Linked DNA regions of Homo sapiens. The protein of the gene in region 1 interacts with the protein of each later gene in a pairwise test. Each region holds a gene or a part of one and is shown in the gene's direction. Other genes may lie near its edges.

The links.
Region 2: the proteins of TPR (region 1) and ZC3HC1 interact in a two-hybrid assay, tested with the Homo sapiens proteins (one study listed by BioGRID).
Region 3: the proteins of TPR (region 1) and NUP37 interact in a two-hybrid assay, tested with the Homo sapiens proteins (one study listed by IntAct).

What each region holds. Positions count from the first base shown.
Region 1 is NC_000001.11:186,330,219-186,337,261, reverse strand, and holds part of TPR (nucleoprotein TPR), read left to right. Parts: intron 1-105; coding exon 106-249; intron 250-567; coding exon 568-766; intron 767-1,718; coding exon 1,719-1,924; intron 1,925-2,132; coding exon 2,133-2,194; intron 2,195-2,728; coding exon 2,729-2,937; intron 2,938-3,867; coding exon 3,868-4,140; intron 4,141-4,918; coding exon 4,919-5,067; intron 5,068-5,680; coding exon 5,681-5,764; intron 5,765-7,043.
Region 2 is NC_000007.14:130,017,792-130,020,417, reverse strand, and holds the end of ZC3HC1 (zinc finger C3HC-type protein 1), read left to right. Parts: intron 1-1,685; coding exon 1,686-1,754; 3' UTR 1,755-2,126; downstream 2,127-2,626. UniProt on the Homo sapiens protein: Required for proper positioning of a substantial amount of TPR at the nuclear basket (NB) through interaction with TPR.
Region 3 is NC_000012.12:102,075,115-102,082,157, reverse strand, and holds part of NUP37 (nucleoporin Nup37), read left to right. Parts: intron 1-2,941; coding exon of another isoform or gene 2,942-2,947; exon of another isoform or gene 2,948-3,096; intron 3,097-4,654; coding exon 4,655-4,836; intron 4,837-5,310; coding exon 5,311-5,361; intron 5,362-7,043. UniProt on the Homo sapiens protein: Component of the Nup107-160 subcomplex of the nuclear pore complex (NPC). The Nup107-160 subcomplex is required for the assembly of a functional NPC.

The sequences.
Region 1 (7,043 bases):
ATAAAATTTCTTTGCAAAGCTGTGATTATTTTCTTAGACAAACTTGCAGAAATGGAATTACTGAATATAAATATGTGAGTGTATTATTACTGTTTGTTGTCTTAGGTTATGGAGACATCGGCTCAGTCCTCTGGAGACCATCAGGAGCAGCATGTTTCAGTCCAGGAAATGCAGGAACTCAAAGAAACGCTCAACCAAGCTGAAACAAAATCAAAATCACTTGAAAGTCAAGTAGAGAATCTGCAGAAGGTATGAGTGTGAGAACAGTCTGTTCCTAATTCTTTCCTGTTATACACCTAAAGAAATATGTGTTAACTACTGACACTTTGTCTTACCATGTGGGAATGGATACATTTTATTCTTTTTACTTTGAATGGCTCATGTATGTAAGTAGTACCCAATCATCTTCAAGTGTGCATTTAGTTGGTCTGACCACCATTTTTATACTTATACTTCCATTTAATCTTTTAAAAAGCAAATTAATAAGTTATACTTTAAGTTGCTACCACATACAGTTTATATTGAAATGATTGAATTCCATGGTGAATACTTTGTTTTCCTTTAAAGACATTATCTGAAAAAGAGACAGAAGCAAGAAATCTCCAGGAACAGACTGTGCAACTTCAGTCTGAACTTTCACGACTTCGTCAGGATCTTCAAGATAGAACCACACAGGAGGAGCAGCTCCGACAACAGATAACTGAAAAGGAAGAAAAAACCAGAAAGGCTATTGTAGCAGCAAAGTCAAAAATTGCACACTTAGCTGGTAAATATCTGTTTAAAGTTTGAACTTGGTAGTGAAAGTTGATTATGTGTTGCAGGCCTAAAACTAAATGGAATAGAAATAAAAGGTATCTACTTATGAAGGGTGTTTGTGTGTGTATGTGTGCTTTAAATATTAGGAATAATTAGTTGGACACAAAGAGCAATCCTAATTTTCAAGTGATGAGGATATCCTTGATATGATGAAATTTTTCTCAATTGTTGGCTGGCAGTAGATAATGGAATACTGCTATCCTTCTGCTTTCATGGATAACAATTCTATCTTGTGACAGAGATCCTTTGAGCCCAGACCGTGCTGTCTAGAAACCTTATGTAGACTGCATAAAGATCTTTACCAGCCCAGGGATTTTTTTGTGCCTCGTTTGGTGGAGGACCCCTCTAGCTTTTCAGGGAGAGTATCATGTCAAATTTATGAAGAACCTAGTTCTTCAAGGCTCAGGGCTTTATTCAGCCTTGCCTATCAGTCTGCTGAGTAGTTAAATAAAATGTCAAATCAGTTGGATTTTGTTACAGGCATTTTTTTAAAATGATCTCTAAGACAGTGTCCTAACAACTTACTTGATTTTAAAAGTTCTTGAATTATTTTTAAACAGTGCTGTAGATTATATGAAATAAAAATTTTGCAATTCATAGTAATGAATTGCATGATACATTGAAATATAAACGGGCTTCTGTTAACTAGGATCTTTAGCTTTTTGAGATTTTAGTTAGGAAAAAGTAAATTTTTATGTTGGAGTAAGTATATTTTATATTCTAGTAATAAGTTAAAGCATGAATGTACTTAGAACTTTGCTCATTGAGATGTATGATGTATCATAACTAATGTAGATGTTATAGTAGTAGAATCTGATGTGACCATGTGCCAATTAAGTGCATAAATGCTGTTTTAAATGTTTGATTATAATATTAATATAATCGCCTGGTTACTTCTTTAGGTGTAAAAGATCAGCTAACTAAAGAAAATGAGGAGCTTAAACAAAGGAATGGAGCCTTAGATCAGCAGAAAGATGAATTGGATGTTCGCATTACTGCGCTAAAGTCCCAATATGAAGGTCGAATTAGTCGCTTGGAAAGAGAACTCAGGGAGCATCAAGAGAGACACCTTGAGCAGAGAGATGAGCCTCAAGAACCTTCTAATAAGGTGATTAGCTAATTCTGCTTAAGTAACAAATTGTTTTTCTTTGTACATTTTACTTGAAAGTGCTTGGTGATATAGGAGCCTTTGTCAGTGAATTTTGGCTAAAATTCAATATATGCGGAGAGAATTAACAATAATGACAATTTTTTTGTGGCATTTTTAGTGGACTCTTGTGGGCTAGGAACAACAATCAAGAGCTTTCTCTTTATAGGTCCCTGAACAGCAGAGACAGATCACATTGAAAACAACTCCAGCTTCTGGTGAAAGAGGAATGTGAGTTTTAGTTATTTCATAGTCTGTTATTTTTCTTTTAAAGCTCAGGGAATATCTAGTGATCTTTCTGTTTAGGAAAAAGAAATCTGTGTATTCTATTGTAAAAACATACACTAAAGAGTTGTTTTCTCTGCAGAACTGTATCATGTATTTGCCAGCTTGTTTTCACCATACTTTCAGTCCTATCAGATGAAGCTTTGTGACAGAGAAAACGTCTCTCATCTTTTAGTTTACAGTTGGTTTCTAAGTTAGGCTGCTACTGATTTTCCCCGTGATGTTACATGATGACAGATAGAAAATGCTGGGCTGAGACTTGGGTTCAGCAATTCAACAGCTAGATACATTTTACATTGTCAGGATGCACCACTCTGGAGCATTCCCTGTGTAGTTTTTAATGCTTAAATTCAAAACAGCTTTAATAAGGCTCTGAAATATTTAGTGAACAAAAAAATGGAGACCTATACTCACTGTGTTTTTAAAAGTATTTGCATAATAATTTGTTATTAATTATTCTTCCATTTTCTCCTCTATAAGTGCCAGCACATCAGACCCACCAACAGCCAATATCAAGCCAACTCCTGTTGTGTCTACTCCAAGTAAAGTGACAGCTGCAGCTATGGCTGGAAATAAGTCAACACCCAGGGCTAGTATCCGCCCAATGGTTACACCTGCAACTGTTACAAATCCCACTACTACCCCAACAGCTACAGTGATGCCCACTACACAAGTGGAATCACAGGAAGGTTAGTAAAATAATACAGATCTGATGAGACTGCTTATTTAGATTTATTATGAGAAGATGACAGTAATTTCAAAGACAAATGAAGCATCCACTACAGCTGAAGTCACGTCATTGTAAAAATGGGTGTTTAATATTTGAAGGACATACTTCTAGGACCAAAATTTTCACTTGTAATGACAAAGAATATATGAAATCCACTTTGGAAAATCATACTGAATTACTGGCTCAATCCAACATTGCTTTCTCACTGAAACTGACCATTTCATTGCTTTCTTCAATTTTTTCCCATGACACTCTTGTTATTCATTACAGCAATTACAACTTTGTATTTTATTCTGTGGTATACATGCTTTTTACTCCACTACATTGAGCTCCTCAAGGGCAAAAATCTCAGCTTCTTATTGTTTAATCCCTTTACCTAACTCCACAGTAGGTGTTCAGTAAAACTTTGCTACCTGCATATTTCCTTAGATTCTTATCTTGACAAATGTTAGAATTCAGTAAATTATTCAAGTATTTCTGTGCTGTGAAAGTAGAGAATGTTTTATTTCAGCTACATCCAATAAACTAAATATATTACTAATCAAATTTACTATCTGTTATATCAATTAAAAACTAAATGATGCTTAATGAAAAATTCTAATTTTACTTTGAGCTTAATTTCATTAATTTTATTCAACAGTAATTTAAATGAATAGATGCAAAATCAGTTACAGATATTTATTTAATTCAGGCAACATTTTATTGCATGCTACCATATCAATTACATAGGGAATATAAAAATGCATAATACATTACCTTTACCTACAATGTATTTGTCTACCAAGTGCCAAATCTGTGTGAAAGGTGACATGTACCACAGAATAGGAAGGATAATTTCAGCTTTGATAAAAGTAGAAGGCTTATATTCAGCATTATAATTATTTTTCAGCTATGCAGTCAGAAGGGCCTGTGGAACATGTTCCAGTTTTTGGAAGCACAAGTGGATCCGTTCGTTCTACTAGTCCTAATGTCCAGCCTTCTATCTCTCAACCTATTTTAACTGTTCAGCAACAAACACAGGCTACAGCTTTTGTGCAACCCACTCAACAGAGTCATCCTCAGATTGAGCCTGCCAATCAAGAGTTATCTTCAAACATAGTAGAGGTTGTTCAGAGTTCACCAGTTGAGCGGCCTTCTACTTCCACAGCAGTATTTGGCACAGGTAAAATTAATTTTAAAATGAAGTCAGAGTAGACCTATGCATTTATAAGATCTTGAGTGTATCTTGAGTATATATATCTTGAGTATTCTTTGTACAAATGAAGTTAGAATAGACCTACGCAATTATAATATCTTGGATATAATACGTATCACAAGTATTCTTTGTGCATACATGCTTTCTACCAGGAATTAGAATGAATGAATATATTACTAACATTTTATTTCATGTTTACTACTGAATATGACTATTTTAAATCAGTTGTTTGTCATTAAGATGATTCTCCCCCTCCAGTTATTTTTTTTACTGGTCTTACATATTAATGCAAAACATTGTATATAATTTAACGGAAGTCCTGAGGACTAAAAGACACCTAAGATAAGACTATATACTGATTTACATACAGTGTACATTTTTTCTTATTCAAGGAGTCCTGAGTTTTATAGAAGGTCCCATGTAAACTTTGTAGATAACAACATAGTAATACAATCTCAGTGAACCAGATATATTGTAAAAATTGGCTGGCTTTATTAAGCAAAGCTTGGGTTGGTATAAAAACATTGACTCAGAGCATAAGTTGCTCTTTGTTTACCCATAGCTTAGCAGAAACAAATTATGTTGATGGACATTGATCTAGGAGTTGATTGATTGTATTTTAGTAATCTGTACAATTAAATGTTTACTGTGTTCTCCTTTAGTTAAGTGACCATATTGGGTAAACTATCTTTATCTAAATTGAGTTATTATCATGCTCTAATTCAAGATTTATATAATTTCAAAGTTTCGGCTACCCCCAGTTCTTCTTTGCCAAAGCGTACACGTGAAGAGGAAGAGGATAGCACCATAGAAGCATCAGACCAAGTCTCTGATGATACAGTGGAAATGCCTCTTCCAAAGAAGTTGAAAAGTGTCACACCTGTAGGAACTGAGGTGCGTAAAGTTCTTTCTGTGTATTTTAACTTTTACCAGTAGAGTTAAGGTACTCTTTTCAGCTACAGCCTAAAGAAAATTAACCTTTTGGGGCCAAAATATATTATCTGGAAAACACTTTTATTGAACTTTCTACAAAGATTCCACTGACAACCCAGGTATTATTACCAACAGTGTTTTATATTCTTGCATATCTTTAATTGCATTTGTTTCTATTTCAATAAAAAAGCTCAGTCATAAAAACATAAGTTGAATTTCATCTCGAAGTTTCTAAGTCTCATGGACATAAACTGTTACCTGCTATCTTTTTCTAAGATTAGCCAAAATTATATTCCTTTTTGTGGTTAAGATTAAATTGTAATGAAGCAGGTTTCAAATCAAACATTAAGGCTACTAAATTAATTGTATTAGCATGTATTAATGTTCATAAACCTTACTTTGTGTATACTGAGGAGGAATGTGATTATAATTTTTAAATAAAATTTTTTTATTTTTCTATAGTTTCATAAAATATAGATTTGAAGGGTTTTTTCAAATGAGAGAACTAACAAAAACAGGTAACCCTTCATCTACTACACTGATATGGTTAATATATTAGTGTATTATGATACAGGAAGAAGTTATGGCAGAAGAAAGTACTGATGGAGAGGTAGAGACTCAGGTATACAACCAGGATTCTCAAGATTCCATTGGAGAAGTAAGTAAAAACATACCTAAAGTACCACACCGTTGCTTTTCGTGAATGAAATTAGCTTTGACAAATTGAAACATTATTTGGTCTTTTTTTTTTTAGCTTGTTCTTATTATATGTAATGAAATACTACTAGAATTAATCATTGCAGAGTCTGCTTTCTTTTACTCCTATGAGTATAGTGTACTGCCTTCTAAACTTATATTAAAGAAATGTTTTTGTTCATATATAGCACAGATTTCCAGATTTTTTAGAGTTGTGAGCCAAGATTTTTCCCTATTTTAATTACATGAAATACAAGAGTGCTGGTTGCATCTTGAGTTAATTTATAGTGCCCCATTTGCTGGTTCTCTCTTACTCCCCTGTATTATTTCCCTTACAGAATTAAAGTAATCCATAAAAGGAAATGCATTTATATACCTCTTCATTTTTTGATCTCTCATTGAGGTTCCCCTAGCAGTTTTACTAGCGGAGAGAATATAGACCCTGAAGTTACAAAGCATGAGGTGTCATTCCTAGCTCCACCACTAGGAAGCTTTGTGACTGTAAGCATATCATTAATTCCCTGCATTGTCTCACTTGTCAAAAAATATAATTTTTAGGATTGTAAAATACCTAAAGTAGTACCTGCCACATATTAGGCACTCAGAATATTATTACTTTCCTTTCTTCCTTCTGTCCCACAAAATGAGAATTCATATTGTCATCAAGAAGACCCCCAGGGTGGCTAAATAGTGTTTAATAGAAAGGAGAGCTTTATTAGTGATATCATTTTGCTCATGAGGAAGAAATAGTCTCCAGCGTGGACCAAAGGTGTTCTGTCTTCACACAGGGCAGGGACAGGTGTGGTTTTATGCCTCACAGGGTCCTTATTACACAATAGAGTCATGCATATTCAGCAGGTTTTGGGGAAACGCTATACATATTTATGAGGGGAACTGAGCATATAAACAGTAGGTAAATATATATAATATACATCCCATGTTCACTTTGGGGCAGCGTTTTAGCATGAAAATGAGCTGGAATTTGGCTCTTTACGTGAAGAGTGAACAAAAGGTGAACTACAGGACACAAAGACAGTTTGTGCGCAGCCTCTTTAAGCAGGTTGAAACTAGCTTAAGGTGTCTGCAGTTCCTTGCCAGTGCTCTCTACAGTCAGAGTTGTAGTGGTCTGGATTGTAAATCAGAGATAGGAGTCTGATAACTTGCCCGATAGTTCCAGTTAGAGGAGTTTAGCAAAGGCTTATATTTTTTTATTGTAACCATATGAATTTAGAAATTTACCA
Region 2 (2,626 bases), on another chromosome or scaffold:
TGTTGGTGTGCACCTGTAATCCCAGTACTCCAGAGGCTGAGGCAGGAGAATTGGGAGGTGGAGGTTGCAGTGAGCCGAGATCGCACTACTACACTCCAGCGTGGGCAACAGAGTGAGACTCCCTTTCAAAAAAAAAAAAAAAAGAAAAAAGTGTATACTATTTTTTCAACTCAGGTTTCTTTCAACTTTGTCACTCTATTAACTAAATTTCCCTCAGTCATTAGTAAGAGTTCAAACTTTTTCCTCCTGGAACTTATTGAAACATCCTCAAAGAGGATAGATTTTTAAAAAACTGTGAAAGTGGGCCGGGCGCAGTGGCTCACGCCTGTAATCCCAGCACTTTGGGAGGCCGAGGCAGGCAGATCATGAGGTCAGGAGATCAAGACCATCCTGGCCAACATGGTGAAACTCCATCTCTACTAAAAATACAAAAATTAGCTGGGCGTGGTGGCATATGCCTGTAATCCCAGCTACTCAGGAGGCTGAGGCAGGAGAATCGCTTGAACCAGGGAGTCAAGAGGTTGCAGTGAGCTGAAATGGCACCACAGCACTCCAGCCTGGCGACAGAGCGAGACCTGTCTCAAAAAAAAAAAAAAAAAAAAAAAAAACCTGTGAAAGCGTCATATGAGAAACTGGAGGTAACTGTGGATCATCTTGCTAGACATTCTTTGTACTCTCACTGAGACCCTTTCTGCGTGGAATACTTGCTCTTCATTGTGACTCTCAAAGGCAGACAGAACCAAGTGTTCTGATTCACCAAGAGCTTTTGTCTCCTAATGAATTACTTTGTCTCCCTTTACCACCATTTCTCAGAATCTCAGAGTACTTCATTGGCATGATCAGATGGCACTGCGATTCTTCCTATTATTAGCACTGCTGGCTAAAACATAAAAGCGGTGAAGACCAAGGCCAGAGCTTAAACTCATAGGGGTCATTCAACTCTGTTTTTATTAGTTGTCCTTGGTTTATACTGTTAACCTCAGCTAGGCATCACATTAAGTATAAGTACTTATTCACAATAAATAATGAACTAGGGCCAATTCAGCATCATGAATGAAAAACCAGTGCAGGCCGGGCGTGGTGGCTCACGCCTGTAATCCCAGCACTTTGGGAGGCCGAGGCAGGCGGATCACGAGGTCAGGAGATCAAGACCATCCTGGCTAACACGGTGAGACCCCCATCTCTACTAAAAATACAAAAAATTAGCCAGGAGTGGTGGCGGGTGCCTGTAGTCCCAGCTACTGGGTGAGGCAGGAGAATGGCGTGAACCCGGGAGGCAGAGCTTGCAGTGAGCCGAGATTGCGCCACTGCACTCCAGCCTGGGTGACAGAGTGAGACTCCGTCTCAAAAAAAAAAAAAAAAAGAAAAACCAGTGCAAAACATGTGCTGTACTAACGGCAAGTCAGAAGTGTCATCCTCAAGTACAAAGATGAGGACAGATACAGATGCCTGAAGGGAGGATATGAGCCGTGTCTTAGAGGCTCAGAGTGTGTTAACAGGAGTCTGACAGTAGAACGTTGGCCCCTCGATCTTTAGTCTGACTTTAGGTATACATTATGTATAGCATACTACAAAATGAATTTTTACTTAGTCCTAGACATATCCAGATCATTGTGGGACAAATGATCTATCCTTTGTCTCTATAAAAGAACGTAATCACTAATAATAAGCTTTTCTACCTACAGAGTCTCTCTGAGAAATCAAGGAAAGTATTCCGAATATTTCGGCAGTGGGAATCTCTGTGCTCATGCTGAAGATACTCCAGCGCCTTCCTGGAGATAGCTGGAATGAGAGTGACTTTTTGAAAAATTAAGGCTGAGTTCCTTTCGGTCAGCTGACACTAAGTTTTTCCTGTTCTGGGTTAATCATAAGGAGCCCCCTGCCATAGCAAAGGCAGTGAGTGTCAACTATCTGCATCTGGCTGAGAGAGACCCGTTTCCTTTCAGGGATGTGGACAGGGTAAGGGCAGCAAGCATGGTTCTGTTAAAGGAGTGTGGGATTAACAGACTAGAAGGAAGACTAAGGACCTGACCACCCATTTCAGCATCTTCAATGTGGAGCAGTGTTCTGAGGACTCTTCTATCCTAGGACTATGACAGTGTGTATTAATAAAATATTTGCTAAGATTCTCATTGTTGGAGAACTGTTTTCCCCCTTGCCCTGTGGGCCGGAGAAACTTCAGTGGAACATTCAACTTTTGATTTTCAGATTGGCTGCAAAGCCTAAAATTTGTGATTCCAGTCAAGGAGGTATAATCTTTCCTAAACCAAAAGCAAGATGATTTTCATTATGCCACCAGGAAATTTCCTGGTGTGTTATAGTGAATGGTCAACTGATAATTTTCTCCTTGCTTTGATAATAACAGAATAAAACAATGTAATGGGGAGGAAGGCACTTCAGAAGAGACCCCTCTCCATGTGCCATTGAATGCATGAGTCCCCCAGTTGGGCTTCCCCAAGACTCGTTGCTTTTGGGGGATCATCAGTTTTTGTGGTAGAGAAGGTGGACCCTGAACTGCCCACTGATAAAGTAACCATGACCTAGCAAAGGCTAGAAAGTGATTATTCTCTGATATGCCATGTTTTTCGTCACTGAGATTGTTTTGTTTTATACTTTTGTACTGAAG
Region 3 (7,043 bases), on another chromosome or scaffold:
CTAAGCTCCCAAATCCAATAAGACTCAATAGGAGCTAGGATTTCAATGCATACTAATAACAGGACCAAGGATTCAGGATGTCACGGGATCAAAGAATTGGGACTGAGGACATCTCAGTCTCTGACCCTAAGAAAAAAGAGGTTAAAGAGTAGCTAAATGTGGCCGGGAGCAGTGGCTCATGCCTGTAATCCCAGCACCTTGGGAGGCCGAGACAGGTGGATCACTTGAGCTCAGTAGTTGGAGACCAGCCTGGGCAACATGGTGAAACCTCATCTCTCATCTCTACTAAAAATGCAAACATTAGCCAGGTGTGGTGCTCGACCGTAGTCCCAGCTACTCTGGAGGCTCAGGTGGGAGGATTGCTCATGCCAGGGAGGTTAAGGGTGCAGTGAGCCCTTCAGCCTGGGCAACAGAATGAGACTCTGTCTCAAAAAAAAAAAAATAGCTAAATGAAATAGGTTTAACAGCCAACATTTGTTGAATGCTTTCTATTTTCCAGGGACTGTACTAAGTACTTGACATGTATTCTCACTTAATCCCCACAAAACACTGCAGAGACAGTAGTAGTATTGTATTTTGTAGATGAGAAAACCAAAGCACCAAAAGTTCAAGCATTTTGCCCAAGGTCACACAGTGACAGATTTGAACTCAATCTGGTTCAAATACGACAATGTTCTGTGCCACTTAAAGTATTTCCACCTTGGAAATTCACAGTGCATAGTATTGTTTATACTTCTGAAAATTCCTAAAGGAAAAATTCCCCCTGTAGCATTTTTAGATTCAGCTACTCCCAAACTTACTTAACTTTTCTACCCTATCTGTTCTTATCACCCAAAAAAAGATTTGTCATAATTGAGCACAGTTATACAGACAGTAAATAACAAAAATCTTTTGTTAGAACTGAGTTTTAATTTGACTTTAACCTATAATAATAGCCAATGTTTTTTGAGTGCCTGCTTTGTGCCAAAACAGTTCTAAGTGCTTTATATTTACTAACTCATACCATTCTCCCAATAGTCCTATCAAGTAGATACTCTTATTAGCCCCTTCTTAGTGATAAGAACCCGAAACACAGAAAGGTAAGCCGTTTGCCCAAGATCTTACAGCTCCTGAAGGCAGAGCTGGGCCCCATCCAGGCAGTCTGGCCATAGAGGCTGCACACCTGCTTACCATGCTTCATTGTTCATTGCCCCTACTACCTTCGGACCAGGCTCAGGTAGACTTAGCCCTTCCGTAGTCCATAAGTTATACCTGAAATTCTCAAGATCTTTCAAGTCACTCTTAAAATATCAAATATTTTTACTAGGTCCTGGTGAATTTTCCTCGATCTCTTACCTTTTCTGATCCTTCCCCACTGCATACTATAGCACACTAGACCACTCACCAGTCTTCAGCAGCCTAGCCTTGTAGCAGGGAACATGTGTGCACTGTAGTTAAACAGACCTGGATTCAAATTCAGGCTCCATCATGGGCTAGGGTTGATACCTTGTACAAGTTACGTGAATCACTTTGAGCCTCAATCTCATCTGAAAAATGGGATTAACGATAGTAATTTCCTCATACAGTGGTTTAGGGGATTAAATAAAGCAGACATGTAAAGCTCTTACCCCAGTGTTATACTTGTTTTTGTTGTGTTTGTCATTGACCTCATTGTACTTATTGTTAGTAGCATTAGTATTATCTTAACATTTGCCTGTTCTTAAAGAATCATTTTTGTTTTCTGTTTGTTTTGTTTTTGAGGCAGGGTCTCACTCTGTGGCCCAGGCTGGATGCAGTGGGACAATCATAATTCACTGCAGTTTCTATTTCCCAGGCTCAAGTGATCCTCCTGCCTCAGCCTCCTGAGTATCTGGGACTACAAGTGCTTGCCACCTCGCCTGGCTAATAAGAATAATTTCAAATTCCACTTCTTCTATTAAGAATACTGTAATTCCAAACAAACATTGTCTATATTCTGAAATAATTCCTTTTTGTACTCTAGAGCATTTTGCCTTAAATTATTGTCTGATTTTTTCATAATTCTCTTTTCTAGATAGAAAGTTTCTTGAGATCAAGGATTATGTCCTTTATCTTTGACTTCTGTTGGAATTAATACAGTGTTTTGTGTATGTATGTATGTATACAGTAGATCTTCATTATTCACAGATTTTGTATTTTTGAATTTCCCTCCTCACTAAACTTTATTTGTAACCCCAAAATCAATGCTCATAGCACTTCTTTAGTCACAGACATACGCAGGGAGCACAGAACAACAAAAAGTTTGAGTCCGCTTATGTGCACTTGCTCACCTAAAATTGAACAAGGTGAACTCTGGCTTCTTATTTTAGCTTTCATACTGTAAATATGTGTCTTTTCCTCGTCAGTTTAGTGCCACATTTTTAACATTTTTGTACTTTTTGTGGGTAATTTTACTGTGTAAAATTTTACTGTGTAAAATCATCCCCAAGCACAGTAATGTAGTGCTGGCTAGTGTTCTAAGTGCAAGAAGGCTGTGATGTGCCTTATGAAGAAAATAAATGTGTTAGGTAAGCTTTGTTTAGGCATGAGTTATAGCACTGTTCATGGTGAGGTCTATATTAATGAATCAGTATATATTAAGTAAGATATCTTTAAAAAGAAGCACAATTTTCAAAAGCTACGTATTGATCAGTCATCAAAAAGGCTGGCAGGGAACCTAACTGTGTATTTCCCCAGTGGTTCAGTATTCACTAGTTGAGTGTTTGCAGCAACTTTATAATAACAAACTACCATGAATAATGAAATTGACTATCCATGTGTGTGTGTATAACATAGATGCTCAGTAAAAGCCTGTTAGATGAATAATAGAATAAATGATGTTTTATGTGTTTAGGAAAGTACAAAAGTACGTTCTTAAAGAACAGTCACATTTTAGCCATACAGTAAGTTTTTGAATCTGATATAATTATCCTCCATTTTACAGATATGAAAGATAACTCCAGGTCACTCAACAGGTTTAAATGGTACAGCTCAGGAGTTTTGATGCCAAATCCCACATTCTTGCCAATCTACCACTACTATTTACACCCTCAAGGATTTTTCAACTTAATAGAACCAGAATTAAAAGAACACTGCTTAAAAGTAAGGACTTTACAGAGATGTAGAGAGTGGAAAAGCATTTTATTCAGGCATCAACTACTCATGCACTTAGATACTCGTAGCAATCTCATACCTTATCTCCCACAGATGGGTATAGCAATGCCATGATTCCTTGAGATTAAGAAAAATTTTTTCACATTTTATTATTTTGTAAAATTGGAATTTATATTATAATTAATTTGTGCGTTTGATAAAGTATTTCACACATAAAACTTACCAGTGTATTAAACATCTTAACTCAATGGTATCTTAGAGTAAAGGAAATAGTGAAGTAATAGCTACTATTTTTTGAGTGGGTGGCTACTATTTGTCAAGCATTACATTGAGGTACTTTACCCACATTACTATTTAATCATCACAACAATCCTGCAGCCATTCTTATCCTCCCATCTCCATTTTAGAAATGAGAAAGCTGCCAGTCACATGGCAGTCACTCAGCTTATAAGTGAAGGAAGCGGCGTGTCTGTGCTCTTTAACTATGCTGCCCTGCCTTCCATTCTAGAAACAAACTTCAGTTGCATAAGTATGTGTAACACATAAATGTCTGTCTCTCTTGAGAGATACATACTTAGCTATTCTTTCTAGACAATATAACTAACATAACTTAAAAGTAACTTTTCCCAGAAGGAATTGTTAAATTGATCTCTTCTTCTTAGTGACGGCACATCATCACTTAAAATTCTACCAAATCTCAAAATCTTTTTTTTTTTTTTAAAGAAGGAATTTCGCTCTTGTTGCCCCGGCTAGAGTGCCGTGGCACAATCTTGGCTCACTGCAACCTCTGCCTCTCGGATTCAAGCAGTTCTGCCTCAGCCTCCCGAGTAGCTAGGATTACGCGCATGCCACCACAACCGGCTAATTTTTTTTTTTTTTTTAGTAGAGACGGGGTTTCACCATGTTGGCCAGGCTGATCTCGAACTCCTGACCTCAAGTGATCTGCCCGCCTCAGCCTCCCAAAGTGCTGGGATTACAAGCGTGAGCCACCACACCCGGCCAAATCTTGAATTGTTTATCTTGCCAGTTTTCTCTAAGGTTTTTTATATTCTCTAGAGATTTTTACATAGCCTCTTCCTTTACATTTGATCTTCCATTTGTAATATAGGTTGAGGATCCTTATCTGACATTCTTGGAACTAGAAGGGTTTCAGATTTTGGAATTTTTTGCATTTTGTAATATTTGCATATACATGAGATACCTTGGGAATGGGACCCAAGTCTAAACATGAAATTCATTTATGTTTCATGTATACCTTATACACATGACCTGATGATAATTTTATATAACTTTTTTTAATAATTTTGTGCATGAAACAAAGTTTGTGTTAAGTGCTTATATGTGGAATTTTTCACTTGTGGTATCATGTTAGCACTCAAAAAGTTTTAGTTTTTGGAGCATTGCAGATTTTCAGATGAGGAATGCTGAACCTGTATATTGCAAATGTTTACATTTTACCGTACAACAGTGAATCTCTGCTTACACTTCAGGTATAGTTAGTGAGATAAGTGATTGAGTTTCTTTTTATTTTTCTGTCTTACAGCTAATGGTTGCAGAGAAGAATGGAACAATCCGGTTTTATGATCTTTTGGCCCAACAGGCTATTTTATCTCTTGAATCAGAACAAGTGCCATTAATGTCAGCACACTGGTGCTTAAAAAACACCTTCAAAGTTGGAGCCGTTGCAGGAAATGATTGGTTAATTTGGGATATTACTCGGTCCAGGTACTTTCTTGATATGTTTGTCTATTACACACCAAAAAAAGGCAGTAACTGTTGCTAAATGATCCACTCATCCATCCTGTTATACCTGAGACTATGCTGTCAAGCGAAAGCAAGTCTTTCCTATAGAAGGCCAGAGCTATGGATTTTTATATAACATAAACTTGCTATGCAGATTTACTCTGGGAGTAACCCAGAAAGGACAGTGCAAAAGAGGAAATCTTGGATCTGTGCAATGTTGACTTATATTGGAAAATAAGAAAAACACTGACCCTGTTGCATGATGGTTCCCTGCAGTGGTTCTAAGTCATGTCTTTATTGTATTTCATCTGTTTTAACTGATTGCTTGTTTAGGATTTATTATAGTTTAAACACATTGGACATTCTGTCCTATAAAGAGAAAATACTGTTTAAACCTTAAGTTCACCCACTTGAGTTTAACACATAATTCATAAAATGCAAAATATTATCTTTTAGTTATCCTCAAAATAAGAGACCTGTTCACATGGATCGAGCCTGCTTATTCAGGTAATGTACCGTTTTTGTTGGAGCTGTGATTTGATCTTTTGACGTTGCTGTGCCACCACTGGGATACTTTTGTAGTTCTCTTCTTTGCACTGGATTTTTTTTTTCCCTTATTGTTTTATAAGTGGTTATTTTACTTTCCCGACTAAGTCATTGCCTTTGTCTTTTGGTCTAGACAAGGAGTTGATTTGTTTTCCAAATATTTTCTTTACACAGAAAAACATGTAACCACTCCACCACTACCACCCCTACAATTTGGAATATATTATGCTTCCTGATTGTTCTGTGCTGTTAAGGATGTAAATGTAGGGGAGCCCATGTTCATGTATATAAACTTTATTATTATGTGTTAAATGAAACTATGCTAGATAGTATATCTCTGCGACATGTTTTTGCTTTTCACTTAAATTAACATACATGTCTACCTTGTTCTTTTTCATAATACTCCATTGTATAGTGTGGTCCTTAAGCCATTATTTCTGCTTTTTAAGTAACAGCAAAACCAAATAAGAGACTAAAACCAGTGAAATTTTATTATATGCTATATTCCAATAAGTTGTAGAACTTAGGGATACCATTATTAAGAATAAAATACATTCGACTAAATGTAAGAATGCCATGGATCGTTAAGATACATCCTGACTTCAGAGATGTGTGAACAAATATACACCAATGAGCAAGTATCCATCAATTTTAAAATCAATGAGCTATGGTACTTATAAGTCTAGAGGAGGTAGTCTCAGGGCTTGTTGAGCAGCTCATCAATGTCATCAAGAGCTCAGACCCTTTTCATCCTTTCCCTCTGCTATTCTCAGTGTCAAGGATTGGGACTTGTTGCTTCATAGTTACAAGATGGCTGTGAGAGTTCCAGGCATAAGAGAAGTACTCCATTTGCCGAACAATTAAACAAAAAAAAAAAAGTAAGAGGAGAAGAAGGAACCCTCTCCTTTTATGGGAGATTGCTATGACTGCCTTAAACTAATTATGTCTCATCCCCTAGGGTAGGACACACTGTGCCCTGAACAAAGTTAGGCTTCACTTAGCATGGAAAAGGGGCAGAATGGCTGTCATATTTGATGCCTTATTTGTTTCTTCTACCACACTATTACCCCTTTGGTTGTGAAAAAAAGGATTGTATCAACCTTGTGTAACTTTGGAACTTAATGAAATGACACAAAATAAGCACTTCATAAAACTTAAAGTATGAGAAAATATTTATGGAATATTTTCCTGGAATTCCCGGTCTAATTGTAAAGACATATTAACAAATTTAGGATTATTAAAATCACTGGTTTTATACAAAAAGAAACCTGTTTCTGTCTAGGTGCTATGGCTCATACCTATAATCCCAGCACTTCAGGAGACCAAGGCAGGAGGATCACTTGAGGCCAGGAGTTTGAGACCTGCCTGGGCAAGATAGCAAGACCCCATTCCTACAAAAAACAAAAAATTAAAACTTACCTGGGCATCGTAGTACACACCTGTAGTCCCAGCTACTAGGGAGGCTGAGGTGGGAAGATCACTTGAGCCCAGGAATTTGAGGCTACAGTGAGTTTTGTTAGCACTTCTGCACTCCAGCCTGGGTGACAGAGCAAGACCCTGTCTCTTAAAAAAAAAGAAAAAGAAAAAGAAAAAGCCCGCTTCAGAAAAGCTTGTCATTATCCATAGGATACGATACTTAATTT